6 separate regions of the Homo sapiens genome follow, and regions 2, 3, 4, 5 and 6 are each linked to region 1. Evidence: fine-mapped expression QTL. A gene starts in region 1. Each other region holds a variant in brackets. All regions are shown on one strand. Distances are from middle to middle.

Region 1 (5,077 bases):
GTGGCTGACACCTGTAATCCCAGCACTTTGGGAGGCCGAGGCAGGCAGATCACAAGGTCAGGAGTTTGAGACCAGCCTGACCAACATGGTGAAACCCCGTCTCTATTAAAAATACAAAAATTACCCGGGCGTGGTGGCACACGCCTGTAATCCCAGCTACTCAGGAGGCTGAGGCAGAAGAATCGCTTGAATTGGGGAAGAGGAAGTTGCAGTGAGCCGAGATCGGGCCACTGCACTCCAGCCTGGGTGACAGAGCGAGACTCTGTCTCAAAAAATAATAATAAAAAGAAACCACTTCCATGGAATCAGAGAGATGGTTCCATATTAGCCATGACTTCTGCTGCTCTTTTGAGAATGTGGGCTTACTACCTAATCATTTTAAGATGCCCATGGGCACTTTTACTTAGATACATGCACTTTCTCTTTGCACTAGTGAGTCTACGTGAATATTACATGCCAGAGGAACGTTAAAGTCTACGCTAACAATGCTTCATTTTTCTTTAACAATTTTGTCCAGGTCATGGAGACATTTTTGTGGAGTGATAAATTAACTTGGTCTCCTGATGTGTTTTCCCCACATGCCTTGGAAAATCACTTGTTTTTCTGAGAGGTGGTAGTCATCAAAGCCTTAACTTCAGCAACAGCTTCGCTGTTTTAGCTTTGTTATAATTAAGATACCCTAGTACCATTGATAGTTTAGGATATTTGATATGAATGTAATGCAAAAATATTTTTGGCCCTTTGTATATAGCAATGGTCTCAAACTATGAGCAAAATTATGGCTAAATCAGATTTTCAAAAATGGATTTTAAGAAATTCCAGGAGGTAGGAACCTGGTTAACTCATGTGACTTTAAAAATCAGATCTCTGCCAACAGCCCAATTCAGTTTCCTAAGAATAAATTTTTAAACTTCCTGTATCAATGCCTTAACTCAGTTTCCCTTCTCCATGTGTCACTCTCATTAACTTTTGTTGTGCGTGATTTTTTTTTTTCTTTTTTTGACGGAGTCTAGTTCTGTTGCCAGGCTGGAGAGCAGCGGCGTGATCTCGGCTCCCTGCAACCTCCGCCTCCCAGGTTCAAGCGATTCTCCTGCCTCAGCCTCCCGAGTAGCTGGGACTACAGGCACGTGCCACCACGCCCGGATACTTTTTTGTATTTTTAGTAGAGACGGGGTTTCATCATGTTGGCCAGGATGGTTTCGATCTCCTGACCTTGTGATCTGCCCGTCTCGGCCTCCCAAAGTGCTGGGATTACAGGCGTGAGCCACCGCGCCTGGCCTGTGTGTGATTTTATGCAGGCTGGACACCAGTATCCTAGAATAAGATGATCTGGATTCTATCCTGATAAACTGGATCAAACAGGTACTCATCTGATGCAGGTGAAACTCCAGTGCAGGAACTTCTATGATAACATTAACTGAACATAATTTTAATTGAAATGATCTACTTTTATGTTTCTTTAGATGTGAACATTAATTTTTCTCTTAATCTTCTGTTAACTAATTTCTTGGTAATGTACTCAAAAGAGCTTTCAACCAGTCTTCCCATGTAAGAAGTTATCACCATACTCACTCTGTTACTTTCCCTTATACTGCACACTTTGCTCAGCAATGAATTGATCCCTGATTTACACATCAAGCTGAGCTCTCACATCCTAAATATATCTATTCTTTTGGAATTTTAGGTATTTGGCAAATATTGAAGCGTTGGGGAGATTAAAGAGAATCAAACACAACACTAGCAGACTCAACTACAATCCACAGAGGAAATAACCAAATAAGTTGCTATTTTAAACAATTTAAGCAAATAGAAGGAAGGGATTTCAGAACTCACAGTATCTATAGGCAAGAAAATAACTGAAGCAGTGATGCTTAAAAAGACTTGGTGAGGGTTAATACTTGAATCCCTATAAAATACAGTATTTTATAGTATTTGACAACACAGGTGTGAAGGTGAGCATGGATAACCAGTTTTCTTCTCTAAGCAGGCAATAAGAATGTTAAATATAAATAAGACTTCATATAATATAAAGAGTGAAAGACTGAAAGCATTGTCTTACGACTACTGTATTATTTAAAGAACTACATCTATATCAATTAAATGTGGCAGGACAGAATGTACAGTACAATACTGGGGGTGCAAGATTTTAAAATGAGGAACAGGCCAAAATCTAAACACAGAATCGTCCAAAAAAAAAAAAAAGCCTTCAAGTAGAAAAAGTTTTCAATAACAAAACATGGTAGTTAAACGCCTGCGTCTAGTAACATGAGTTGGGGAAAAAACATTAATAGCAGATTAATGAAACAGATTCTGTGCGAGGTCAGGGTAGGGAGTGATGGCGCGCGGAAGCGGCGTAAGAGCTGGTTTCGCCGTCCCAGAAAGGGTTCCACATCCACACGCCTGTACTGCGGCCCTGCGGGGAGCGTTCAGACCCCTCCGTTTCCCTTCACCATTGTAAACGCGCAATCCCATTAAGATCCCGTTCACTCCAATTCCTGGAAAGAAGCTTAGAACGGTGAATCTCTTCCTCGGAGTTGAAAATCAACTTCCAGTGCCGGTCACCCAATCCTTCAAAAATCCTAGCCCTCTCGGGCCCAATTCCTAAAGAATTCAAGCCTGCACCCTGTACACCCTGACCGATCTCAGCTCGTCCCCACTCCGCTCCCAGCGTCCCCAGCTCTAAACGCCGCCGCGTGGCTCAGCGCTGCCCAAGCCGGGCCCTGAAGGCCGCGCACAACGCCCCGCCCCCGGCGAGCGTGGCGGAAGTAGCTCGCTCGGGCTGGGAGAGCGCGCGCCACCTGGCCAAGCGCGCATGCGCCCGCACTGCCAGTGCGGGGGGCGTCCGTATCGCTTACTCCTCAGTCTCCGCAACCCCCGCCCCACCGAGAGTCGGGCTCACGCCATCTTGTACCCCCCCCATCGCCCCGTCACACAGCCGAGTCACCTTTTCCCTTTCTACACTCCACACTCTCAGTCCCCCACCCCGCCCCTTTCCAAGCGTGTCCCGGGCCGCAGCAGCAGAAACCGCACCATCTCCACCCCCACATTCTCCTCGCGGGAAGCGCAGCAGTGCCTCCAAGGGTTCTTAAAGCAGAGGTTGTAGGGCTTGCGGGGGGCGGTGCGGGGATTCGGGCGGGGGAGACGTCAGAGAGCCGGGAGGGACGCAGAGCGGAGATCCCAGCGTCGCTGGGCCCCCGCGCCGGCCACGCCCTGGCCCCGGCTCGAGGGCGGCTGCCTGGGTCTTCGTGGTCTACGCCGGAGTGTTGAAGGGAGGGCGGCTGTGGGAGGCGCTGGCCGGGCGCAGCGCCCTGGTTCCGCTGCCGAGCGTGGAGTTGCCTCTCGACTCCTCCCTTTTGGCGGGTGGGCGTGGGGTGAGGGGGGCTGGGCTGTGCTGAGAAGCGGGGTGCGCGGGTCGTCTAGGTAGTGTGGGGGCTGCCGGAGGAATCATTAAAGAGGGAAATTGTTGCTTTATGGCACGGCGAGAGAAGAGTTAGGTAGTTAGTGGGAGTGTAGCATCCAGAAAGAGGAAAAGATCCGCTGTGTTCTCTGTGGGGTGAGCTCACGTCTGTGACCCCTGGGGAAATTATTTAGCTTGTCTTTGCCTTGTTTTGGTCTGTAAAATGGCGATCTTATAGCCTATTTCAGAATTGTGAGGATTATATGAGAAAATACACGTTAAACGCTTAGAACAGCGCCAGGTGCTGCTCAGTACATATTAGCTCTGCTTTTGCTCTCCACGTTTTAGGAGTTCAGAATGACTGTGACCTTATTTTCTCAGAGAATCAGGACACTTGGTCTCACACGTGAGAGTGAAGTTATGAAGACAGTGATATGTAATATTTGACACTCAGACGATCCTGGACGTAGTATTACTGTACACGTGGATAAATTAGCATTTCTCCAAGAGGCTAATAGAAATGTTAAGTTATTTCGGTAGAAAGAAATGTGTGTGTATATATATGTATATACATATGTGTGTATATAAGTATATGTATGTGTATATATGTATGTATGTATTTGGAAGGAGAGGACCTGGGGTCTTAGTATATGTGAAGGGCAGACTCTGGAAGAGGAATTAAATTCGCCCTGCAAAGATTTACTTGAAGGACAAAACTTGGGGAATTTCTGGTGAATGTTTCAAAGAGGCTGAATTTGCCTATGAGAAACAGTTCGTGAGAGTACTTTGCAAGAATGGAATGCTCTTCATTGTGCTATGGAAAGTTTCTTATCTCAGGATATTCGGGACGTTGGAGCGAAGTATGCCTAAGTCTAGGGCTGCACTTTTCACTAGCAGTTTCTGCCTTGATGGAGATGTTCCATAATCTGTGCCTTTAGGCACTAGTGGTAGCCTAGGCACAGTGGCTCTTCAGCACTTGAAATGTGATAAGTGTCACTGAGGAACTTAATTTTTAATTTTATTCATAAATTAATAAATTGATTTACGTTTAAATACCCACATGTGGCTAGTGGTAGCTACTGCATTGGACAGCACAGGGCTACAATTTAGATTTTGAGAGTCCTTCCGAGTCTTGATATGGTTGAGTTTTAAATCAGATAAGCCAGCTCTTTGGAACATTTATTGCCATAGGGAATTGTAATTATATTCAAATAATGCCTTTCATTCAAATACTGCAGTTCAGACCATGGGTCTGTTAGTACTTATTTACATCTTGACAAATTAAAGCAAAACGTTGTCTCCTAGGTTGTACAGCTAATGCCAGATTCAGAGAGCTATGACAGTATTAACTGGAGTTTTCTTTAAACATTATTGTACTATTTTGTGATTGTCGGTTTCTGCTATCTTTTACCACTTTGGTTGGTTTTTCAGTGAGAAGTTTCCAGCTCTTATTCAAGTTTTTTTCTTTTTTAACCTTTTGTGTAATAAAGCGATTTGAAAAATTGTAACTCTTGAGCATTAGGACATTTTAGAACTAGTTTTATGGTTATCCAAATCTTTTGGAGAGATAAGTGAAATTAGGTAATAGATGTTTCACAAAATTACTTTACTTGAAATATGTGCATCTGTTTTTTTTTTTTAAAGCAAGTGTATATAAAGTCAAATTTGAAAATAAAACTA
Region 2 (5,077 bases), 570 kb after region 1:
TATTACACAACTGCATTTGTATTTTTTTTTCCAGCTTCTGTAGTTGTTTGCAGTTTGAAAATCAGTCTCTCATACCTTGAGTTATCAGTCAGGGTTCAGTCACAGAATCAGAACCACTGTGTACTATGGGATGAGGATTACAGGAATCAGACCTTATACAGTTGTGAGAAGAACTAGGAAAGTGAAAGCATAGGAAGGAAGTTGGAGGATCAGAGAAAAAAAAAAAAAAGACCAACCCATCAATGTGAGAAACAAAGAACAACCAAGTGCCAAAAGTGGCTGCAAAGTGATGGCTTATGAGAAGGTATGCAGGAAGCCATGCTTCTGTATAACTGCCACCTTGGCAGGCCCACCACTGAGTGTCTGGCATAAGCTGGGAGCCACTGTTGGTCAACAGCCTCTTCAGTCAGAACTGAATGTGGAGTAGAAGAATGTGAAGACAAGCTAGAACCTGTCAGCATTTCTGTGCCTTCTCTGTACCTGCAAGACCTTCAAAGATCAATAGCTGCTTCATTTCCACCTTCCACATCTGCATACATTTCCCTTTTGGCCAACTCTAACTCAGAACCCTGTAGGGAATGGGAAAGTAGTTTAAGTTTCACCAAGTTGGCACACTACCAATGACTGCAGTCTATCCAACCTTTGTCTACTTGGTACCCATACATACATCTTTTAACCATGTTTAACCTCCAAATAAAGTCAACAGCAAAATGCTTCCACCTAACATGATGCATGCTAACCCTGTCCTCCAAAAAGGGTATAAATACCTTTGTGGTCATCTTCCCAATAACCCATAACCCCTTCTAATCTTGAGCATCATACAAATGTCACTTGAGAGGCATTACAGAATACCTGACCACACTCCTCAAAACTGTCAAGGAAAGCCTGAGAAACTATCATAGCCAAGAGGAGCCTAAGGAGACATGACATAAATGTAATGTGGCATCCTGGATGCAATTCTGGAGCAGAAACGGGACAATGGATAAAAACTAAGGAAATCCGAATCAAGTATGGGCTTTAGGAAATAACATACCAATATTTGTTCATTAATTGTGACAAATGTATCATAATGTAAATTACTAATAATAGAGGAAAGTAGGTGTTGGGTATATGGGAACTTTGTGCTGTCTTCACAATTCAGTAAATGTAAAACTGTTCTAATATAAATTTTTTTTTTTTTTGAGATGGAGTCTCTCGCTCTGTCATCCAGGCTGGAGTGCAGTGGCACGATCTCAGCTCACTGCAGCCTCCGCCTCCCAGGTTCAAGTGATTCTCTTGCCTCAGCCTCCCAAGTAGCTGGGACTACAGGCATGTGCCACCAGGCCTGGCTAATTTTTGTATTTTTAATGGAGACGGAGTTTCACCATGTTGGCCAGGATGGTCTCAATCTCCTGACCTCGTGATCCACCTGCCTCAGCCTCCCAAAGTGCTGGGATTACAGGCGTGAGCCACCATGCCCCGCCAAAAGTGCATTTTTTTTTTTTTTTAGTAAAAGGCTATTAAGTCCTATATGACACATCCATTTTGGGGTGATATTTTTTCCTCTTTTCTCTGAGTCACACTCCCTCTTTAATATCCTGTAACTTAAATACTGAGCTATATGGCTAGCCACTATTAACACATCTTCTATTAAAGATAGGGAATGGAAGTGGGGGAGTAAAGAAAATTAATACCAAAAAAATGCTGTATTCATATTAAAGTAAGAAAGAAATACTTACAACCACTACTGTCATCATTTCTGTAACTGGTCCAATGGTCCTTGCTAGTATTTATAACTTCCGTCTTCTGTTAGCCAGTCCATATCGCCTTTGCCCTTAGTAAACAACTCAGCTGATGTGCTTCCTTGCCTCATGGGGTGATCCTGCCTATTTCTGTTTCAGTTATCTTTTGCTGTGTAACAAACCCACCCCAAACGTTAGTGGCTTTAAGGCAACATTATTTTTTTTATTTCTCATGATTCTGGAGTCAGGCATTTAGATGGTATTTAGCTCTTGTCCAGAGCTGCTGAAGGACAGAAGTATACTCGGTTTGGACCCACAGGCCCAGTCTTGGCTTCTGGAAAAAACTACACCAACAATACATTTGGCCCCTTCACCACAAGGTTTGTTTCCTCCGTGGATCTGGCACTAAGAAATTATATCTATTCGTAACTCTTGCCTGATGAGTAACTTGGATCCTAAATTCTCCCTGCCCTTAATGGCTGTGTGGTGTTTGAGAAATTGCTTTAACTTTGGGGTCTTGGATTCCTCATCTATTAAGTGGGAGCATTGAAGTTCTACTAGATGACTTTAAGACATATTTTTTACTCCTGAAATCTGTTATTTAAGAGGGGCATTTATGGAGTGTGGATTATGGAAAAACCAGCATAAGTGGGAGTCAAAACTTTAAGAATTTATTTCAGCCTAAAATGCCTATTTTTGAAGGGAACCTAATCAAAACTTTTTAAAAATAGTTTTTAATTATAGGTTTGAAACTTTGTGTTATTTGTAATGCCTTTTTAGAAGCCTGAAAATAACATTTCTCTCTGTACCAACTTTGTGCTTTTCCATTTGGTAAACACTGATTTTATTTCTCTCTGTCCCTGTAGGAGTAAACCAAGCCAATTCAGCACTTCCTGTTTA[C/T]TTCCTTGTCATATGTACCATAGATGGTGACAGACCTGCTCTCAAAACAAGCTTCCTTCGTTTAATTCTGCATTTTCTGCTTAGGCAACCACCCTATCAATATACTTGAACAATGAAACAATTTGGCTACGGAAGCACTGTCTCTGAATTCCTCCTTCAACTTGTCAGTGGAAAGGAAAGTCCCTTGGTGGAATGGTAGGAATAGTTTTAAGCGGGGTATCACACAGTGCCTTACAGTGGAGAATATCAAAGCGTTTTCAGCTCTTCAATCTTCGTATGCATGACATGGGTGAACACAAGACTAATAAACAACTTGATTTCCTTAGGAGATTCTCAGTGCTCTATCTGTTTTTTAAGTAAGAAGATTGAGTTTCATGTATATTGAGTGACTAAAGTGTAAGCTTAGAAATATTTTATGTCTCCATCATAGTTTATTCTGTTCAGCATAAATCATCAGAGCCAACCATAACTTAACCATTTACTAGAGCTTTTTCAGAGTCAGTTGTATTACAAGCATGTCAGACACACCTTCCTACAAGTCCCTCAAGGTCAATAGTTGAGAAATTCTGCGTTTTCCTTCCCTTCCCCACTCAACACTTATGGAAATATATGCTAATTGGAACAGAAGCTGCCTACCAAACTAACAGGGTTAGACCACTCTTAACACAAGATTAATGAGAAAGAAGTTTAAGGAAAAAATAACATTTCTCAAGCAGTAAGAAAGTACATGCCAAGTAAAAGCCAACAGTCTGCATCAGTCGGATACCAAACTCTGCTTTCCCTTGACTTTACTTAAAGGAGTTAAAGACAGGGAATCCTGTATGTCCAGCCTTGCTCCAGTCACTGTTGCCAGCCCTTTGGCTCAGTGTGGCTGGCTTCTCACCTTCCTTGGGGCCTCAGCTCAGCAGCCACCATTGTAGAAAACAAGACCACAGACTCAAGGGTTAGAATGAGACTCTATACATTGTTTACTAAGGTGACATGCCAGAAGGAATGATGAGGCACAGACATACTGCATGTGGCCCGCTGCATTCATGACAGGCCTTTGTAGGTGTGTGATTTATATTCATAAAGGGGGGTTCGGAGACAATGGATGTTTAAAGTCACTGATATTGGCAAGAAATTAAGTTTGTGAATCACTCTGCGCCGTTGATGAATGACTGAACTGTGAGTTAGCAGACATCAAGAGCTGTCAGTTAGGAGTGATACTAATGTTCTTTTGAAATAGGTTTAGACAACAGTATTTGCTTAGAAGGAGAAAAGCCTAAAGATCTTATCAATTTGCAGAAACTGTAATTGGCATACTACGTGACATATTTACATTATTTGGCAAGGGCCGGTGAGGGCGGGGGGTGATTTCTCTTAGAATTCCAACCCTTTCAGGATCCAAAGGCAGCCTTCACCTGTGGCACATGCTTAGCTCTTTATAAGCACCCTAAATTTTTCCAAATAAATTTTACACATTTAAAAAGTGATGATCTTTCACACCTAGTGCCCAGATCTTAGTTTCTAAATATCATTCCCCACTGGTATTCAGGGTTCCTTGGAGAAATGCCTGATCCCAGAACCAGGGCAGGGAAAGATGCCTGGAAAAATGAGCCTTGAATATTTTATTGCATAAGAAAATAAGGAACTGGTCAAAGAACCATGGGGAGAGGTCAAAAATGGAGCTGGAAGAGGCTCTTACTGGCCAAATCTGGGACAATTTGAGCATCAAAATAAATGATAGTACTAGTTTGTCACCCATCGAATAAATATTCATGAGTCCATGCAGTATAAATAAGTAAACAGAGGAGAAAGTGAAAAGTCTTCTTTGCAGAAGAATGCCAACTAATAAATAAGAAGGAATAGTAGCATTAAAAGATCATCCATGGTAGAGGAAGACTGATAAGAAGTGGTTTATGTAGTCTCAGATTGTCTCCCCACAAATTACTGATTAATTAAAAAGGAAAAAATAGTAAAAAAGAAATCAGATGTTCTTTAAATTATTTATTGTAAGTACTGTTAATTAAAATGTTATGTTTGTGTTCAAAAATAGATAAGTACTCTTGCTTAAATTTTGTGTTTCTGCAGGCCATGCCACTAAATAAGAAATGCAAACAGGGAGAAATTCATTTATAATAGTTGAAAGAGTATCTCCAATGATGGCAAATCCTTTGATAAAATATATTTTGGTCAAATGCCTAAGACAGCTCCTTTTGTTCAGCCTCAATCTGGAAATTGTTCTTCCCTCCAAAAGCCAGAACAGGCTGACACTGTAGCACATCAGAGGCATATGGGAGCTCTCTGCTCCAAGCACTGCAATTTAAGGGAGATGGGGAGCTACAACATCATGTGGGCAAAGAGGTGGCCATTCTAGGATGGCACTGGAACTCCGTCTGTCCCTTGCCTAGTGAGGACCCTGGCCTTTATTTCCCCCTTTTGTTGTCTATATAAAACCAGAAACACTGTTTTCA
Region 3 (5,077 bases), 450 kb after region 1:
TTTAAAGAATATCATAAAATTTAGGCCTAATCAGGATGCTAAAGATGAATTGATGTATAAGTATAATGCTCTTCACACGTGTTTATAGCTGATATAAGATTATTAATAACAAATATGTACATTTTATGTTAATTCTTCTGAAGCAATTTTGAAGAATATAATGCTAGAATCACTGCTATATTAAAAATTCTAAACTTTGGATACATTTTTAATTTGAACAGATTATTAGCACCTTGATAAAGGACTAGATGTTGACAGACAAAGAGAATGTGAAGATATTTGTTGAGGTGGAAAAAAAAAAAACTGGGATTATAACGTTTAAAGGCTTCCTTCCGGAGAACTCAATGAGCAAATCAAGAAAGTATAAAAGTGCGCCTAGTAGCTTCATTATGCTAATGTTAACAGTTGCTGAATTATGGCAGATAAACCTGAAATTGGCAAAATGGAAACTCTAATGACATTTTTCACAAAATTCAATGTTTTTATTTTAATATAATTTAATGTCACATTTTGGCAAAAATAGCATGATTCAGCCAGGCTGGCTTATGTGTCTCCATATCTTACAAATGGCAGTCACAAAATTTTTCTAACTTAGCTTCTATCTTAGTCCATTTGGGCTTCCATAACAAAATCCTGTAAACTGGGTGGCTTATAAACAATAGGAATGTATTTCTTATAGTTCTGGAGGCTAGGAAGTCCCAGATTAAGACATTGGCAAATTCAGTGTTTTGTGATGGCCCACTTCCTGGTTCATAGGCAGTCATCTGTTCACCCAAACCTCACATGGCAGAAGGGGTGAGTGGTCTTTCCCTGGTCTCTTTAAAAGGGAACTAATTCCATTCATGAGAGCTCCACCCTCGTGGATAAATCAATTCCCAGAGGCTTCTTATCCTAATACCATCACTTTGTGGGCTTGGATTTCAACGTACAAATTTTAGGGGAACACAAAGACTTACCATAGTAAACCTCCTACTTCAGTTTTTGATCAGTGTTTCATATAATATCTTAGAGATAGCTCCATAGGAGTATGTAGGGAACTGCCTCATTCTTTTCAGTGGTTGCTTTGGTTTCTGTTTCTTTGAATGGATAATTTATTTAACCAATCCCTCATTAATGAACATTTAGTACTATAGTAAGTATCCTTATGTATATATATTATTTTGTACCTGTGCAATATATCTGTAGGATAAATTCTTACAGGTGAAATTGCTGAGTAAAAGAGGTTGTTCTTTTTCATTTTTATAAGATTTTGCCAAATTGCTATCCATAGAGGTTGCTATCTATAGAGTTATATTCCCTACAAAGAATTATGAGTAAAAAATGTATTAATTATCAAAAAAATACAGTAATTATCAGAAAAACAAATAATATTAATTCTGTGACTACAAATGACTTCTAGACCCGTTATAGTAATATGCAAGTTAATTCTTTAATGTTGATGGCCTGCCATCTGCTACCTACTATACTTTGAAGTAAATGAGCTTCCATTTCAAAAACTTAGCGATCCCATTTTTAACACTTAATTTAAATAACCTAATACTATTACTAGCTAACATTACCCAGGAGGCTGAGTCAGGAGGATCACTTCAGCCCAGCAGTTCAAGACCATCCTGGGCATCATAGCGAGACCATATCTCTAAAGAAATTAATCCTTTTTTTTAGCCATATGTGGTGGCACTTGCCTTTAGTCTCAGCTACTTCAGAGGCTGAGGCCAGAGGATCGCTTGAGCCCAGAAGTTTGAGGCTTCAGTGAGCTGTGAGCACACCACTGCACTGCAGTCTAGGTGACAAAATGAAACATCTCTTTATAAAAATAAAACAATTTCCTAGCATGTGTCAGGCATTGTTCTAAGTGGTTTATGTATTTCAACTTATTTAATTTTCACAACAGTCCTACAAGCAATTATAATTGTTTTCCCAATTTACAGGTGAGGAAACCGAGGCCCGAGATATTATGTATCTTGGCAGAGCTGGTAACTTGTAGGGCTAAACCCTAGCCCTATAAGTTATTTTGAAAAATCATGCTGAACACACATATACACATCTATAATTTCTTAAGTTTGTATTCACACTCTCATCGCAAATAATCCTTATCTTTTTTGTATCTTTTTGTGCTTGCAAACCTGCCTTTTACAGATGCGGCAAATTAAAACAGAAAGTTGTTGGTTTCGTTTTTGTTTTGTCCTGAGATACCTAGAAAATTAGAAACCAAGTTGAAATGGTCTTATGACAATCCCAGGTATGATAAATAAATGTATCATAATTTAACATTTTTCATTTTAAGTTGATGACCCTCAAGTTATTTCAGAAATGTGCCAAAGAAGCTCCTAAGAAACGTTTATAATAATAAATGTTAAAATGTTTTTTTTAAAAAAATAACTTCCTGTGGTT[C/T]TTTCAGTAAGCTTTCATGACACTTTTTATCTGCAGGCAAGTGGCTGTATTCTCCTGTGTCTTGACATGCAGGCTTAGGTGAAATATTGTGGGCATAAAAATTGCGTTTGGTAGGTCTGCTAGAAAGGGGTCATGTAAAAGTCATCTTTGATTTGTTAATGGAATTCTTTTTTAGATGTAGTATATGGCAGTAGTGATGTGCATCCTAAGGGAAAAACCGGTCTCTTTTGTAAAGGTTTATTTTCATATTTATACACTGTAGTTCTGTTGCGTGTTTTTGATTTAGTAACAATTTATGTGTTTTTCTGTCGCAGAGCACTGCAGCCTGTGGTGTTGAGGCTCACAGCGATGCCATCCAGCCCTGCCACATCAGAGAGGCCATTCGACGCTACAGCCACAGGATTGGCCCACTTTCCCCATTCACAGTACGTAATAACAGAGTTATAAAAAGTTATATTTATAATATGAAAGAATTTTGATTTTCAAGTGGTCAAATGAAGAAGCAATGGAATTGTTGAAAGCAATTTGTGGTGACTGTAATTTTGTTGTATAAAAGTGGCATAATTCTCTTGGGAAATGAAAGTCATTTTCATCTCTTTTTGGAAGGACACTTTTTTTCTACAAAATATTATTTTCTTTCAATTACAAATTAAGTTTTTTTGTTGAGGTTTATAGTTTCTATTTTTCAAAGCTTAGGTTTATAAAACGTTATTCTCAAATTATATGTATCTAAATATTGCTAGTAGCACTTTATATTTTAAAATTGGTTAGATTGGCATTACCACTTCTATCAGATATCCTTCTCCTAAACATGCTTTTAGTTGGAAGAAGAAGAGATATTTCTTTACTGGCTTTGAACTAAGCTGAAATGCAGACAGCCTTTTACATCTTCAAATGATTTGAAAACTTATAATCAGGGTTTTGTGTTGTTTTAATGGGGAATTAAAGACCTGATATTTCAACAGTCTAAAGAAAGTGTGTGCAGGTGTGTGTGTTTTAATTAAATGCTCATCTTATGGCCCTTTAAAAAAAAGATCTTATTTGTGTTAAGAGAAATTTCTTCAAGTCCTACTCTGTTTATAAGGAAGTAGTTCAACAGAAAGTAAAGTTTGATATACCTAACTGAGGAAAGTCAAATTTACTTTTTTGATACTCTGTTTTAACAAGCTAATGAAAATGTATATGTATAACATTATACATAAACAAATGAGAAAATAAATAGTATTACATAGTATACATTTTTACCTGAGTGGATTTTACTATTCATAAAAGTCATGATTTTGTCTATATTATCTTTTTTCCTTATGTTTAGTTAAATAGAATGCTTTCTTTCCATCCTTTATTTTTTTTAGTTGTTGTTAATTATGTAGATAGATTCTCTGTGTAACAGGAAGAACATGTTTTATAAATGTCTCCAGAAGCTCTCTGTAATGGTGAAACTTTGCACTTTTAATATTTGAAGTTTATCTTATATAAGAACATGATTTTAATATTGCTGATTAAAGCAATATATCCTTTTGCATGAATGTTTTTGAAGTCTTATAATTGAAAAGAAATAATTAAATCAAGTTTCTTTTACATGATGGGTGAAGCTGTTTTAAATGACAGGCCAGAAGGAAGATGAACATGAAAAATTATGAATGAGAAAAATAAGAGATAATTGGAAGTAAGAATTTAAAAACCAACTGAGAGTGAAAAAAAACTTATAATGAAAGATTAAAAATATCAAATCCATCGAAAACAGTCAAATAATGATGAATAGGTTGAGACAGTGGAAGGGAAAAAGAAGAAAAAAGAGGCAGTGTTTGATAATAATCTAGAAGCAATTAAAAGATAGCAAAGGGAAACATGATTTTTGAGAAATAACCTAAAATGGTAACTAAAAGTAATGAATAAGATTACATAAAGGAAAATGTATCTGATACAAGGAGAAAATGCCCTAATCATGAAGTCTGCATTATTTCCTCAAAAAGAAGCGGTAGCTGCTTCTCTCTTCAAAGTTTTTGTTTTTAAAATAGACTGGACAGATCACCTGAGAGCCATCGTGGTTGATGACACTATTTACATACATGTGTGTGTGTATATCTTTTCCCCCATGTCCAACCTGGTACTTATGTATTACTACTTTTACAATCTAAGACTGTTAGTATTAGTATATGATAAAAATGCACTTTAAGCTAGCTTCAGGTATTGCCTAAGCTAATTTGGATCTAATAAACATAAAGAATGGGCTTTTTAAAACTGATGACACAATTTTAAAATGCTTAATTTAAATACATCTAGAAAATAAAACAAGCCATGACCTGGAAGGTTCAGTTAGCCGCTAGTAGAACAATCAAACAAAATCAACAACAAATGGTAACAAACTCCACCCCAGAGGGGCACCCAAGGTGTTATTATTCCTCAGGAGGGGACCACCACCTGGAAAGGTCTCCTCCATTTTCTTCAGCTATGAGAATTTGCGCACTACAAGAGTGAATATGCCTGCACTTTTTTTTTTTTTTTTTTTTTTTGAGACGGAGTCTCACTCTGTTTGCCCAGGCTGGAGTGCATTGGTACGATCTCAGCTCACTGCAACTTCTACCTCCCAGGTTCGAGCAGTTCTCCCTACCTCAGCCTCCTGAGTAGCTGTGATTACAGGCACCTGCCACCATGCCCAACTAATTTTTGTAATAATTTTTTTTTC
Region 4 (5,077 bases), 470 kb after region 1:
GGGCAGCACTACTGCTCTCAGACCAGGCAGAAGGACTCCTGCCCCAGGTCCCACAGTGTAGAGAGTATCTCCTATCACAAACATTGTTCAGGTTCCACTTCTCCACATCTCTTACAATGTGCCCTGAATAAGAGGCAACTGATGATGAATGGGGATGCAAAACATAGTATATACATACAATGAAATATTATTCAGCCATAAAAAGGAGTGAGGTTCTGATACGTGCTATAACATGGATAAACCTTGAAAATATTATGCTAAGTGAAATAAGCCAGACACAAAAGGACAAATACTGTATGATCCCACTTACTGGAAATATCTAGAATGAGCAAATTCACACAGGCAGAAAGTAGATTAGAAGCTACAGCAGTGGGGGAAGAGGAGGAATTATTGCTTAATGGGCACAGAACTTCTGTTCGGGATGATGAAAAAGTAGATGATGATGCTTGTACAATATTATTAATGTAATTAATGCCACTGACTTGTACACTTAAAAATTGTTAAAATGACAAATTTTGTTATATATATTTTATCACCCCCTGCCTCCAAAGGAAACTGCTGCTGAATTCCATGAAGTTCTGTGGATTGTGCTGCCATGACTTCGTAGACAGACACTGCTTAAGTAAGAGCAAGGGGAAGATTTGAGCTGCAGAGCTTTTATTTAAGAGGGAAAGGAAATTAACTCATCAAAGCCTTTCTCTGGGTATGAATGCAATAGTTTCTGGCATAAGGAAGCATTGTTTCCTAGTGGTGCCAAGCATCAGTTTTCTTGCCTCTCTCCATGTTCTAATTCAAGGTTCCAAATATGCTCACAAATTAACACAGTATCCACAGCAGTTGCAAATGTTAGCTGAAAAACAGTAACAATTCGTATTACCCTTACACTGGTACATATTTAGGCCTAGATGTAAAGTGCATGAACTGTAATAGTCATTCCTTATATTGGCAACTATATGGATAGTAGACATTAGAATTGTGAATACCTTCTTTAAAATAGAAATATTTAATGAGTCCATTAAATTTTCAAAAAATTATAATAAAAATTGCAGCTTTATTTTAAAAATTTAAAATCATCTGAAGGGCAAGACCATCATGATGGTACTAATACAGCTGACAAAAGAAAAGGTATACATGCCAGAATTTTGGCATAAATTCCAGAAGTATTTTTTATGCCGTAAGTAATGCATCGTCTTTTGAATGTATTGCTAGGAGTTGTGTCAATAACAGTGACATTCTTTGGAACAATTTGGAAGATAGTTATGATATTTTCTGAATCTGCCCAAAGGAAAAAACATCCTAATTAAATATATACCAAATTTGACCTTGCAACCACTGTCAAACATGTGGTGGGAATGCTGACTAAAAAATTTAAGTGATTAATTCTAAGACAAAAGAAGATGCACTAAAAGAGAACAACAGAAGATTCTCAAAGCCTTTTTGGAGGAAAATGAAATCAATTTTGAATTGTGCTATCAATAGTTACTTGATATGGATAATAATGTTAGCAAAAGCTTACCAATAGTGTTAGCAATAGCTTTAAAAAAAAACTCATCAAAAACAATTATATCTAAGTTAGACTATTTCATTTATAAAAGAAGCTACTTTTTTTTTTTTTTTTTTTTTTTTTTGAGATGGAGTCTCACTCTGTTGCCCAGGCTGGAGTGCGGTGGCATGATCTCGGCTCATTGCAACCTCTGCCTCCCAGGTTCAAATGGTTCTCCTGCCTAAGCCTCCCGAGTGGCTGGGAGTATAGGCACCTGCCATCATACCTGGCTAATTTTTGTATTTTTTAGTGAAGATGGGGTTTCACCATGTTGGCCAGACTGGTCTTGAACTCCTGACCTCGAGTGATCCACCCTCCTCGGCCTCATAAAGTGCTGGGGTTACAGGCGTGAGCCACCATGCCTGGCCCCCTTTTTTTTTTTTAATTTGAAAGAAAATACATTTTCTAAATCAAAGAGAAATTAGAAAAAGGAAATGAAAATATTTGCCTAATTATGAAGAAGATTCACAATCTTAATTTCTTTAGATAATATTTTCTGGTCATGGTAGATAAAGGCATATTATTCAGAGAAAAGTATTTCAGTGACTGTCTTATCATTTTGGGGTTTATTTTGTTGTTATTTCTGGAAAAGTTACTTAAATCCCATGAAGTAAGTAAGGGGATGTGCATTGTTTGAAAAAGTTTTAATTTTGTCATTTAATTGGAAAATGAGAACAATGGTTATTAATTCTGAAATAAAAATGAAAGGAATATAGTAAACAATTTTCTCCACCAGCAAGATACGCAGTAGAGAAACCTTGGGAGAAGATAAGAGACTGGGAATGAAGGCATGACATGTAAGGATCTGGAGCTAATGGGAAATGTTGGGAAACATGGAAGGTCAGGTTTCAGTGACACCTTGCCAGCCTGAAGGTCCAAGGTGTAGGGGAAAAGAGAGAAGGAGAAGATAGGGGAAGGGAGGTTCTACAGACAGGTAGAGAGTTGAGCATGATTACAGGACTCAGAAGACAGTGGGGAAATAGGCCCAACTGGAGCAAGGGAAGTGGGTTCATGAGCAGAGGGAACTGCAGCCCAGAAATCCCAGTAGCAATTTTCTTCTTCCTCTGAAACACTTTAAGACTTTTGGTATGTATTGTCCAAATACTTTCCAAAAGCGCTATGCTACTTTACCCTCCCACCAGCAATTCGTGAGAGTTCTCATTTCACTGTATTCATGCCAGTATTATTGTGTTTTAAACTTCATTTAAAGTTTGAAAATTTGATAGCCTGCCAACATTTCTAAAATGGTAGCATTCCCTATTTTGAAAATGTTTCCTGAAGACTTGTAATGCCCTCAGCCTTTGGTATAATGGGAAGAGCCCTGGGCCTGAGCTAGGTGTCAGAGCCCTTACCTACAGGCCTTGAGGACAAGTCCATGCGCCTCTCTCCATCTGTAATGTGAGAGTCAAAAAACAGGCCCCTGCATGGTGCCATAGTGGTTGAAAAGGTTAAAGGAGATAATAAAAGTGAACAGTCTTCGTACATAGGAAAATTCTAGATAAC[T/C]ATAAAATTCAAGATAATTGTTATATATTAGTATGCTACATGGTTAAGACTTAATCTGAGCATTTTATAGGATAAGTGTGAGCTTAAAGATGTAGCACTTCTGATCCCAATTTTTAAAAATCAAAATCAGAGGTTGGGGAAAGGACTAAATAGGTGATCCAGAATTTCATATAGAAAATGAAATATATAAGAAGAGCCAGGAAATTTCTTGAAAAGTATAATTAGGGAGGGAGTTATTAATTAACTAGGCCCAATATCAAAACATTACAAAGCTACAGTAATTCAATTTGATGTTAATACATAAATAGATAAATTGAGCAGCCTAGAAAGATCAGAAATACACCCAAATATGGATAGCAAGTTTAGCATATGATATAGAAAAAATTCCCAAAATATGTTAGTAACCACACACACACACACACACACACACACACGCACACACACACACACACCTCTTAGGTATAGAGCAGCAGAAAGATACATAGTGTTATTTATATTAAGGGGGTAATTAAAGATATATTTTTATAGCTATATGTGTATACATATATATGCTAGTATATACATAGAATTATCTGGAAGGACACATGAAAATCATAAAAGTAGTTGTTGCTGAGGAGATAGATGAAAGCTTATTATTTAATATTTCCCTATGCTATAATTTAGAGTTTCTAAACCAATTTTCCACTATTACCTATTTATTAAAATTTTAGAGACAATATTAGCTCAGAGTAAGGCTGAACCAGTGAGTACTTCTATAAACCAAATATTTCAATATTTTTTTTTTAGTTTGTACTCAGATATTTTAGTGGCCTACATGTCTGATATGTCAGGAATTATATATACCTACCTTTCCACAGTTCTTTGCATAGTGCTAGGCACAAAGTTGGCTTGCAGTGAAGACTTTCTGGGGTGTAAAGGTGACTTTCCTTTACACATGGAATGGGTCTAATTTACGAAGCTAGATTGCGTAGTTGGCAGTTCTCTTAAATACTTTCCCCATAGTACCAGTGTGAAATAGCAAATTTTTGGCAGCCAGGCAAGTTCCATGAATTCATGCGTAGTATGTCTTTTCTGTTTAGAATTGAGATTCAGTGCCCAGTGTCTAGCTTTTAAAAATGGTATTTCTGGCCAGACACGGTGGCTTATGCCTGTAATCCCAACACTTTGGGAGTCCTAGGTGGGCGGATCACGAGGTCAGGAGATCGAGACCATCCTGGCTAACACGGTAAAACCCCGTCTCTACTAAAATTACAAAAAATTAGCTGGGCATGGTGGTGGGCGCCTGTAGTCCCAGCTACTTGGGAGGCTGAGGCAGGAGAATGATGTGAACCCAGGAGGCAGAGCTTGCAGTGAGCTCAGATAGCTCCACTGCACTCCAGCCTGAGTGACAGAGCGAGACTCCATCTCAAAAAAAAAAAAAAAGAAAAGAAAAAAAAGTTATTTCTAAAAATCTTGCTACATTTTTGCACTGGTTAAAATTAAATTCTTTGGACACATGGGGAGTTGTTAAAATTTTTTCCTTGAGAAGGTCAATGAAATGGATTTCAGCAGTTTTGGTTATTTCTTGCTACTCTTTCAAGTTCTCCTGGCTCTTTGGTCCTCCACAGTTCCTTACTTTACCATAGTCAGAGCCACATCATCAAAACTTATCTTCAGAAAGTAACTAAGCAAGTTTTGTTTTTCTTTTTCTTTAACTTAACATTGAGGAAAATATAGATAAACATTCATTACTAATATTTTTAGCAAATCAGAAATTTTGAAAGCCTGTGAGGTCAGCATCTCACAAAATGGAGACAGCCATGTTGTGTACAAGATGAAAAATATCACCTTCCAAAACAATAATGCCTGTAACAACCGCATACAAATTAGAGTATAATAATTTTACTGTTTTCCTTTTTTGAGACAGAGTCTCACTGTGTTGCCCAGGCTGGAGTGCAGTGGCATGATCTGGGCTCACTGCAACCTCTGCCTCCCAGGTTCAAGCAACTCTCCTGCCTCAGCCTCCCAAGTAGCTGGGATTACAGTTGTGTA
Region 5 (5,077 bases), 550 kb after region 1:
TTTTATGATTAAGAGAAGGTTATCTAGAAAACTATATTTGTTTCACCTCATGTTGATGGAAGTCTTTCTAAAAGGGTTAAGTCTACTTTCCATTTTTAGTATAATTAATTATAAATGTGGTTTAATTATTTTTTAAGATGAAGATTTCACTGCCTCCATAGCATTATCTTGATCGTAAAAGGTTATTCTGTATTTCTTAAAATATGGCTGTGGCTGTTCAAGGTTAATTCATTGGGCTGGAAGTATACAGACTCCAGAACTGCTTCAGAGTTATTAGCCTAAGGGGGAAAAATCCCTAACCTGAATTTTATGATTTTCTTTGTTTTTCTGAAAAGATTGACGGTTATGAATTCTCTGGATGTGACTGTTACTAGTTTAAATGATTAAAAATGTGCCAGGGAAAGGGAAATTTTATTCCTAAGTCCTGAATTTTAGTTCTGCTCCCCTCTGGGTCTTATGGTGGAATTCAGGATGTTACAGAGACCCTGTGTGATCCAGGTCTCCCAACACTGAAATGCAAAATATGTCTCTTGGAATGAAAAGCATGCAACTTTTCTTTCTTTACTGAAACGTATTAATTATTGCACTTAGAATCCATTTTCCCATTTTCTTTTATGGGAGTATTTTATCCCACCATGCATATCCATGTGTACATCTGTACGTACAGGTATGTATATAAAATTATATAAGATTTGCATTTTTGATACTGTCTACAATATGCAGAACTATACAGAACTCCTTTGAGATCATCATATTTTAGGGAGGAGGAGAGGCCTCTATTAGTGTCTGTTCCGACAGCTTTTCACTCAGACTATAAATTAGGCCCGGGAAGGGCCAGTAATGAGTCAGTAATTTATAGACTATTAAGATACTTAGTTAGTTAGAAGTGATTCCTGAGCATATCGAATAGAGAACACATGTTTATAAAAGACAAACAGATTCAATACATCTCTTTGGCCTAACCAAGCCCAATCAGTTAACAAAATGGGATGTCTTATTTTATGTATCTGCTACTTCCCAAAAATAGAATCACTAACCACTTGTTAACCACACTGACTTTTTAATAGACAGAATGGTTGCTATAGTTTTGCCACCAGAAATATTCAGATTAAGCATTCTATTAGATTGTAGCCAGCAGAGTCTACAAAACAGGAAGAGGGCTCTGCTTGCTTTTTGCCTCCTTTCCTTGTTTGACTTCATGTGATAATTCATTGCAGATTTCTTTTTCTTTGACAGAATGCCTACCGCAGGAATGGGATGGCTTTTCTAGCCTGCTGATGTGACAACTGTGATGTGCCTGCAACAACAGGAAAGGCAATGTTATATTAAGGTGATTTCTTGTGAACAAAATAAAATACAAATTTACCTTTCTTTTATCTGAGGGAGTGGGCTGGTCTGTTGTGACTTTCAACTTGCTGACTCCTCCTCTTTTCCAGCCCCTCAACCATCGGTCTTGTTTACTAGATGGGCTGTTCAGCTAATTAATGGCAGGATGTTTAGGATAGTCTGTAGGTGGACAAGAATGCAGATCACACAGTTTTGAAATTTTAATTTGAGTAGATTTACTGCCCTCAGCTCACATACCTTAAAAGCAGTGGTTGCCCCCGTCCAGCGTTTTGTCTGCATTTTATTTGATATATTTTATAATCCAGGTTTGGAACAAGGAAACAAAATTAAAAGGACAGTGAGTTTTCGCCTTCCCTTACACCACCAACTTTACTTTCCAACATTTGTTGACATGTGTTTTAGTGACAGCTATCCATTTTATAAACTTACAGTAATCAAAGATCTAACAGACCTGATAAATCACCTGTTCCCACCTCCTTTCCCCTTCACTCCACTTATAGTATGTGTCATTTTCAATGCCTGCTTCCCAACTTCCTGCCATCTGCCTTTCATGTGTGTTTTTCCTCACACAGAACCTCTTCCTCCATCTTCATTTCCCTCCTTTTCCTGTTCCTCCAATCCCCAGATCCACCACTCCTGCACATGCCATACACATTTAGAAGCCAAGTATTCAGAATCAGTAGAAGGGGAGCAGAGTGATTTCTTGCTTCCTCCCTTCAAAGCACTACCACACCTAGACTGGAAATGTGGGCTGGGTAATTTCTTGCTGTTAGCAGCCGAGCTACCCTTCTGGCATCTATACTTTCTCCAGTAAATGAGGAACCGTAACTCTTTGGAACAAACCAAAATATAGCAGATGTAATTGTACAGTTCCTGATTAAACTTCAGTTGCAAAAAAGAAAGTTATTTCTTTAATTCTGTGGGAGTTTTGTATAATTTTACTTTTATGGTTTTTACACATACTTGAAACACTCTTTCTAAAGAATTAATAAAAACAGAAATGAGAAACATGAAAGATCTTTTTCTTGATACTGCTCCTTTTTCTTGATACTGCTCAAGAGAGCAAGCCTCTCTTGATACTGCTTCCTAGATTTAAGGGTAAAGAAAGTAGAAATAGTTCTCCCTTCACCCAAATTTGGAAGTATAAAACTTTCTGAACATGCCATTTAGAGGTTATGTCATTAGCTTTCCTGCCTTCTTATATTGTAATAGTTGCGATTCAAAAACACTGTTTCAATTTTAAATTCAAGACTTTTTATTTGAAAACCATCAGACTCAAAGAATTATGAGGCTCAGTTAATATT[A/G]TTATGCCACATTATTTACATTTGTTAACTGTCATTTACCTGCTCTATGTTAATCTTTTTAGAAAAAATTTGCATTTCAGAAACAAAAAGCACGGATAGATATATAATATCAAAATATTCCCAAAGGATTTTGATGTTCCATCTATGCTTGTTAAAATGTATGATTATGATTAAACTTTTTATCATTCTTATTTTCCTTGGCATCCATAATCATGGAAAATTACAAGCTTGCAGTAAACATCCTAACTTAACTTAACTTTTAAACGATAGCATTTATTGTATTTGGTTTTGATCTGCCAGGCTTATAGATGGTATAAAATTTTCAGGGGATAATTTTTCACATCAAAATTCCTTCTCTCCCACATTATACATTTTAAAGTATGCACAAGGCAGAAAATATAGGGTTTGGGTTTTTTTCCTTCGTTTTATTCCACCTGATCTCCTTATAGTCCCAGAGAAGGAAGACTCAATGTACATTTCTCTCAGAAATATGACAGGTCTGTGTTTTTGTTGGTCTGGCATATGTTTGTCTATCTTGAACAGTCTGACAGGTAATTATTTATAAAATCTGGTTTTGCCCAGTAAGTTCATATAAAACCTTTCATTTTTCATCATAAGCCAGTAAGCTGAATTTAGAATAAAGCAAGGTCATTTATGTCTGTCCTGAACCAGCCTACATGTCCCCATAATTGCTCAATATTTTTAATTCCCTTTTCTATTTTTTATACTTAGGTTCTTTCTCTGACTCTTTGCACAATACTAAATTTGAAGTGAAATAAAACTTCCTTCAGCAGTGACTATAGAAACAAAAGAAAATTTACAGAAGGAATGTTTAAGAAAACTTCAGTAAATTATTTTCTCAATAATCATAATGTTAGAGCAGAAGATAGTCTTAGAGATCATTAAGAACAGCTGCTCATCTTGCAAATGAAAAAACCATGGCCTAGAGAGGGAAAGTGAGTTTCCTAAGATCACTCAATAATGTAGTGACAGACCAGAGATGAGAATCGATGGTCCCTAATTTTCAGTCGGTATTATACAGTATTTTCTACCATACTGGGTTAGCATAAGAATATTACTAAGACATGTTGGGGTTTTATGGCATATTTATCCTAGACAACGATGTAAATTTATTTAAAAACTGTACTAATTATGGATACATCCTAAAGCATACGTGTTATATAGTAAAATCTTCAGTGTGACTGTGGTATTAAGTAAACAGTCTGTTATCTTACACATCAGGCTTAACTCTAAGTCAAATGGAAATATACAAAGCTAGTTTCTATTTTTTGTCCCTTGTATTTTAGAGACTGAATTTGAAAATAAATAAGCCAATAAATAAATAGCGTCTCTTGATACTGCTTCCTAGATTTAAGGGTAAAGAAAGTAGAAATATTTCTCCCTTCACCTAAATTTGGAAGTATAACTTTCTGAACGTGCCATTTAGAGGGTTATGCCATTAGCTTTCCTGCCTTCTTAGATTGTAATCGTTGTGATTCAAAAATACTGTTTCAATTTTAAAACCAAGACTTTTTATTTGAAAACCATCAGAAGCACAAATATTTTTTAAATGGTGTATATAATTCCTGTATCTGGGGAGAACCCTTCATTTATTGCTGTTCTTTGTTTTTATAAAATAATAAACAAGCCATGTCTGATGCTTTTACCATGTAGAAGACAAATAAACATAACTGGTGATTCTTGGTCTGAAAGAAAACATGTTTACTTGTTTAGAATTAATTATAAAGTTTAATTTTATGAATTTTTTTACGTAGTTCTCAAATCAGGCAATGCTTTCCAGTTCATATAACCTCTTGTGTAAAACTGAATCACTAAAGAGAACATATTCTCTCATCTGCCCCCCTGGAATTTGGATAGAACCTTTCCAGGCTACATTTAAAATTCTACCATCAACCATGTATACATCTCATAAAATATTTTACAGTTTCCTGTATGCTCTGGCCGAACATTTCATAGTACATAAACACTCTGCAAATAATCTAAGGGCATCAAGTTGAATATGTCATAGCAGTGGCCACTACAAAGAGCTAATTCTCCAGCAACACAGTTTCTTATTTTTACCTTCTTATTTGAAACTCAAGATGAAACTTTACATGCTATTGTTGTACAGTGGCAGGGGTGAGAAGAGAGCAGGGAACTCTAGCAGTTTTTGTGGAATTGTGTTCATTAAAGCAAAGGCTTTCTGCAGAGGGCATCTAGCCAAGCTTAAACAACAAAACTTTGCCTGCAGGAATTGGATGTAAATGTGATGGTTAAATAAGGGCCAGATGTCGTTAAAAACTCAAATATTAGAAAGTCGTATCTCTTAAAGAAAGTCTCAAATGTTGTAAGTCGGATACTGATACCATGATACCTAAAGAAAGAGACGAGACTTGCATTTGTTTTCCAGAGCAAGATAGATAGTA
Region 6 (5,077 bases), 43 kb after region 1:
ACATCTGGAAATGCTCAAAAGTTGTTTGCCTTTTTTGAGAGAACAATCTGCAGTGAAAGTATAACTTCTTTAGAGGTGATGTTTAAGTTAGCAAATGCTGAACCATAATGTGAGGAAGCATAATATTGTGAATTATTTGGCAAACATACCTAATACAGGCATTAGCTGTTGAAACCATTTGTAAAGTACAACTTACAGAAAGCTAGAAAGATAGGCTACACAGAACTTTATCTGTAAACTCTGAGGATGAAAACTAGAGTACAACTTAAGTTTATTCAATAAAGACTAAATTCTGTAAGTTTAAGTTTGATTTGTTTATAGGTTCCATGATTAATGTGTAATTAGAGTATGAAAGAAGCATTTAGAATCCTTTAAAATTTATAGGTGATAACATCATTGTCAAGTCAGGAGTTTTGTTTCTTAAAGTTAGAATTTACTTAAATATACTTTTTCTCTAAAAAAATAAAATCTTATTTCTACTTACAGTAGTACCAAAGTGAGTTTTCGCAAAAAGAATTATTTAATATGTATTTAATATTTGTTTCAAATAAACAAAAATAAACATAACAACCAACAGTGGAGGGGCGTCTTAGATTTGTTTTTAGCTTTCTTTTTCATGGCTTCTAGAAGTGTATCATATTATAAATACATTCAAAATGTTTTGCTCTGAGGATATGTAGCATTCCTATAAAGGTTAAATCAATAAAAATGATTTGGACACATTCCTAAGCATGGCTAGAACAGGTAGTCCGTTGTTTTAGGTACCCTTGAGTTTCTGGAGCAGATCATTATGGCGTAGCAAAAGAACTTACTAAAAGTTGCTTTCTATGTGTAGATGCATCAGCTTAAAAAAATAAGATTTTCTGGCCTTCTAGAAATGAGTATTTTTAGAGTAACCCTTGTATATATTGATTTAATTATATATTTTAAATGCAGTTAAAGTTTTGGAGCTTTTTTTTCTTCGAATGCTGGAGATACACCATAATTGATAAGGAAGAGGTACGTACAGGAAAAATGCAATGGCAAGCTTTTCCAGCAAATTTAGAATAAATGACAGTCTTATGGTTAAAGAAAGTATCACACATTATAATTGCAAAATAGGGATTGGATGTGATTCTTTTTAGTCTTGCCAGTTTAGAAAAAAATTCTGTAAGTCATTGGCATGTTGTTCTGTTCATATGGGCAGTTCAAAAGGCAAGCTTTAATTTGAGCTTTTATTTTAGAAAGCATATGTATATCTCCTATGTTCGGGGTTGGCTTCTCACTATATTATTGTTGCTATGTAGTTTTATGCATTTGCTTGCATTTTTTGTGTTCATGTCATAAGTTTTAAGTATGTAAGTTTTCAGATCACACTGTTTTCACAGCAAGTTTCAAAAAATATTTTTATGCCAGTTTATAATAATGAGTAAGGCCATTTTTATTAAAGTTTCCTTTAAAACAGCATTTAAGATGTTTCTGGATCAAAAAAATTAAGTGAATTGACCATGTATTTGAATGAAGAAAGTTTAAAACAGAGGTAGAAAATTTGAGTTACATGTATTATTAATGAAGTTATATTATAGAAAATCACTTCCTATCTTTTTGTACATCTAATATGTATTTACTTTGTAAGTAAATACTTTATTAAAAATACTGTGTTACAGTATTTCTTGGAGCACAGGATTTAATTTTATAGTCAAGAAAATTGTTTGAATACGTCTGAGTAAAAATTTATTGTACATATATAGAGTGGTTTAACCATTTAATAATTAAATAATTTAGCAATTTAAGCCAAGTATTTTGATGTTTTAAAAAATATTTAAGTGTATCTTGATAGATTCTGATTTTAGTGTGTCTTGTGTCTTGATAGGACCAGAATATTTATGAAAATAAAAATAAGCCTAATAATCAGCACATGGCTCTAAATTTTCTTCCTGGGTACTTGTGAGTGATAATGTTAAAAACAGATCACTTTATGTGTTTTCTCTAGTCCTATTGGTGTACAAAAATATTCTGCAATATGCTTATGCGTGTTATAAGGGAGGGATATTGTTAAATCTTTACTACATAATCAAGAATAAAGCTTTCGTGACAGTACTCATTGTCCTTATCTAGCTAACACTTTTAAAATGAAGTGGTTACTAGTGGTAAAAAGTTTTTAAAATGTTAA[G/AG]TTTTCCTTCTAAATTACAGAGAGAGAAATAATGTATATGTGTTTGGTTTTGAAAACTGGGAGAATAGAAGAATTCTGGGTGGACACTGGAGTTTATAATATGTGAAAAGGAGTTTCTTCTGTGGAAAGGAGGTTGGATTAATGATCAAAAGTTGGAGTACATTGACTTGTATATTTCCATTTCTTTAGAAATACACTGTAGCACATTGTCTTTGTAAGTAGTATCTCCATAGGCATTATCTTCTTAAATATTTCATTTTTGCATTGACTCTTATAAGAGCAGTAGCAAGTTTTTCTGCATTTTGTCAAAAGCTGAATTACCGAAATGCTTTACAGATTTCATGAGAGGTAAAAAAATTAATCTTATTAGATTATCTTTTGTAACCATTTATCCTGCCTAATGTTAAGATGCTGTTGTCTTGATGGGAGTTTTCTCATAGATTACTTCATGGTGTCTTAATATTTTTGAATTGGGTGTTAGGTTCTTAGTATGAAATGCTTATGTACTTTCACAGGTATCAGCTTTATGGAAAACACAGTGATTGATATAATGTGGATTGTTAGCATAAAGAAGTTTCCTTTCTGTGATCCTGTACAGTTGTTACAGATATCTGTAATCTGACAGTTTATGAAATAAAATGAGAATTTACTTTTATCTAAAAAAATGTATTTTAATGAGCTGTGTTTGCATTAAAGTATCTTATAATAAAATTGTAATTGATTGAAGAGAATCCATACTGTGTACCTTTTTGATACACATGGATTTTCTAGGATCGTTATAGTGATACAGCAGTAGGTTGACATGTTGTAAAATGTAATACCATATTACATAGTAAAATAAATGTCATGATCCTTTCTTTTAAGCTTCAAAGTAAATTCACATTGTTTAGATACATTTAAATAATTTGTAATCATTTAGTAAAATTATATCTTTTCACTTAAAATTATATTGGGAATTTGAAGTCTTAAACTGGGAAGTTCAGTACAGAAATTTAAAAAGAAAGTTAATTCTAGCAATTATCATAGAAAAATTAGAAATTCAATGCTTAAATTGTTTACCCAGGTTACATGGTCAATGAGAAAATATACCTGTTTAGCTTCAAGCCAGAGTTGTTCTTTGAGATAATATTTATAAATAGGAATCTATTAGCAAATTAATTCCATTCATATTTGCCCTTATAAACTCTAATACTTTGTTTAACTGATATCAGTTTTTAATTATTGTTACTTAAGTTTATAACTGGAAAATAACATCTTTGGATTTTATAAGATTGATTATTTTAGTCTTGAAATTCCTAGTAGATGCCTAATCCCTGTTACTGGTTTTATAGATTGACATTTGTTAACTTACATGCAAAAAAATTTTGATTATATTTCATGACAGAACTATAGTACCTCAGTTACATAATTTACAATTTTTTTCCTGGTTTATAATCATTATTACAAGTTCTGTAGTCATTGGTGTGAATGCATTCACACTCATGCATGTGTATATGCCATGTATAAAAATGTTAAGACAAACATAGCCAGAAGAAATTTAAGTTGAACATATATGACACGTATTTTGTTTCGGTGTAAAAATACATCGTGTTCATGTGAAGTTCTGTGGAATATCACGTTATTATTCTGATATTTCTAAAGAAAGACTGCATATATATGTATTCAAACCTTATTGATGATTGTTATTGTGATTTGGCTAGCATTTAACTTTGTCTTTTTTTTTTTTTTTTTTTTGCTTTTCCTGAAGCACAAAATAGATGTAGGTGTAAGATACATGACTATAAGGAATATGTAAATAATGGTATGGTTCATGTAATTTAGGGGAACCTACAAATGTGTATTTAAGTTCTTGAGTTTTAACTTAGTCTATTATGTAAATATATGTTTATAGTTGATGGTATATAATGATTCTGGTAGACATCATTGATGTAAAAAATCGATGTAACTGAAATGTAAAATAAAATTACCTTATTTGACTTTGTGGTGAAAATTATTTGCCTTACATAGGATATTTAGATATACCTTTTTAGAAATGTCACTAATCTGATGTAACTAATGTATAATTAAGAGAATTGGCAATAGGAATAGTAGAGATAAAAGAGTCTTTAAACTGTTTGCCAAAATAATCTTAGATATATTTCTGGGAATAATGTTAACTTGGTAAATTTTCTAACATCAGTATGATAATTTTTAAATATCTCAAACATTATCGAAATTGCGTATGTATATATGTCAGAGATTTCCTTGTTTTGTGGGCAGTTGATTTAAAAGATGAAAATCATCTAATCAAGGTAAACATTTATCTTTTATTTAGAGCTCAAGTCACCCTTGGTATGATTTTTGTTCCTTGGGTGTATATTGGATTTATGAGTATTAACAAGAATATAGAGTAGAGGAAGTGCATGAATAACAATTTTTTTCTCTTCATGTATTAAGTACTTATGTAGCAACTAGCCTTTAAAGGCCTGTTTTAATTCTACAGCTCATCTTATTTGGGGATTGTTTTTTATATCAGGTTAAATGATATAAAAAATGATTGTTTTTTATATCATGTTAAATGATGCAGTTTCTGTTTATTAGTGTTTATGAAAAACTTTGCTTTAGTTAGGCTTCTTTCTATTCAGCAGTAACAACAAAACCTAAAGTGTTTGATAACATGTTGCTTACATCCACTCAACACTGTTCCAAATCTTGAGTCCTATGCCCTTAATAAATAGTATAAAGGGGAGGAAATTCCTAAGAATTCTACATAAAGTGAAGATACTGTATACAGTAAAAGAGCATTTAATCTGAATTGCTATACAGGTCTTAAAACAGTTGTATGGGAATGTATGGTCTGTTTCATGTGTATGTGCTGTTGAATGGACAAAAGCTTGTGGTTGACTGTGGTTAAAAATGTAAGGAAACTCCCTTTTAATAAGGTAT

Alleles and levels. Alleles are on the strand shown, and positions count from the first base shown. SD is a standard deviation of normalised expression in the study named. Not every link is listed here.
For the expression in prefrontal cortex of the gene that starts at base 2,930 in region 1, allele C in region 2 goes with a lower level than allele T (moderate effect, 0.58 SD a copy in BrainSeq).

Evidence for each region. PIP is the estimated chance that this variant, and not a neighbour inherited with it, causes the effect. A credible set is the group of variants that fine-mapping cannot tell apart.
Region 2: its variant is the best candidate, but not a certain one, in a credible set for the expression of SUPT3H in prefrontal cortex (BrainSeq, PIP 0.76).
Region 3: its variant is the best candidate, but not a certain one, in a credible set for the expression of SUPT3H in whole blood (TOPMed, PIP 0.53).
Region 4: its variant is the best candidate, but not a certain one, in a credible set for the expression of SUPT3H in whole blood (TOPMed, PIP 0.63).
Region 5: its variant is the best candidate, but not a certain one, in a credible set for the expression of SUPT3H in cerebellum (GTEx, PIP 0.69).
Region 6: its variant is the best candidate, but not a certain one, in a credible set for the expression of SUPT3H in tibial nerve (GTEx, PIP 0.55).

What each region holds. Positions count from the first base shown.
Region 1 is chr6:45,375,787-45,380,863 of GRCh38, reverse strand. SUPT3H (SPT3 homolog, SAGA and STAGA complex component) reads left to right here and starts at 2,930. Exons shown (of 11, transcript NM_003599.4): 1 at 2,930-3,096. All of the region lies in intron 2 of RUNX2 (RUNX family transcription factor 2), which reads right to left. RefSeq lists silencers at 2,639-2,688, 3,009-3,288 and an enhancer at 2,455-2,998.
Region 2 is chr6:44,807,012-44,812,088 of GRCh38, reverse strand. All of the region lies in intron 2 of LOC101929770 (a long non-coding RNA gene), which reads right to left. It also overlaps a transcript of SUPT3H not described here. Among named protein-coding and RNA genes, the nearest start is that of MIR4642, 370 kb to the right of the region's middle. The variant C/T (reference allele first, on the strand shown) is at 2,622.
Region 3 is chr6:44,930,392-44,935,468 of GRCh38, reverse strand. SUPT3H (SPT3 homolog, SAGA and STAGA complex component) reads left to right here. Exons shown (of 11, transcript NM_003599.4): 10 at 2,706-2,816. Among named protein-coding and RNA genes, the nearest start is that of MIR586, 260 kb to the left of the region's middle. The variant C/T (reference allele first, on the strand shown) is at 2,392.
Region 4 is chr6:44,907,546-44,912,622 of GRCh38, reverse strand. All of the region lies in intron 10 of SUPT3H (SPT3 homolog, SAGA and STAGA complex component), which reads left to right. Among named protein-coding and RNA genes, the nearest start is that of MIR586, 290 kb to the left of the region's middle. The variant T/C (reference allele first, on the strand shown) is at 3,047.
Region 5 is chr6:44,826,017-44,831,093 of GRCh38, reverse strand. It overlaps SUPT3H (SPT3 homolog, SAGA and STAGA complex component), which reads left to right. Exons shown (of 11, transcript NM_003599.4): 11 at 1,237-4,368. The coding sequence ends at 1,278. It overlaps LOC101929770 (a long non-coding RNA gene), which reads right to left. Exons shown (of 3, transcript XR_926855.3): 3 at 1-1,506. Among named protein-coding and RNA genes, the nearest start is that of MIR586, 370 kb to the left of the region's middle. The variant A/G (reference allele first, on the strand shown) is at 2,652.
Region 6 is chr6:45,333,259-45,338,335 of GRCh38, reverse strand. All of the region lies in intron 2 of SUPT3H (SPT3 homolog, SAGA and STAGA complex component), which reads left to right. All of the region lies in intron 2 of RUNX2 (RUNX family transcription factor 2), which reads right to left. Among named protein-coding and RNA genes, the nearest start is that of RUNX2, 7.5 kb to the right of the region's middle. RefSeq lists a silencer at 4,958-5,077. The variant G/AG (reference allele first, on the strand shown) is at 2,153.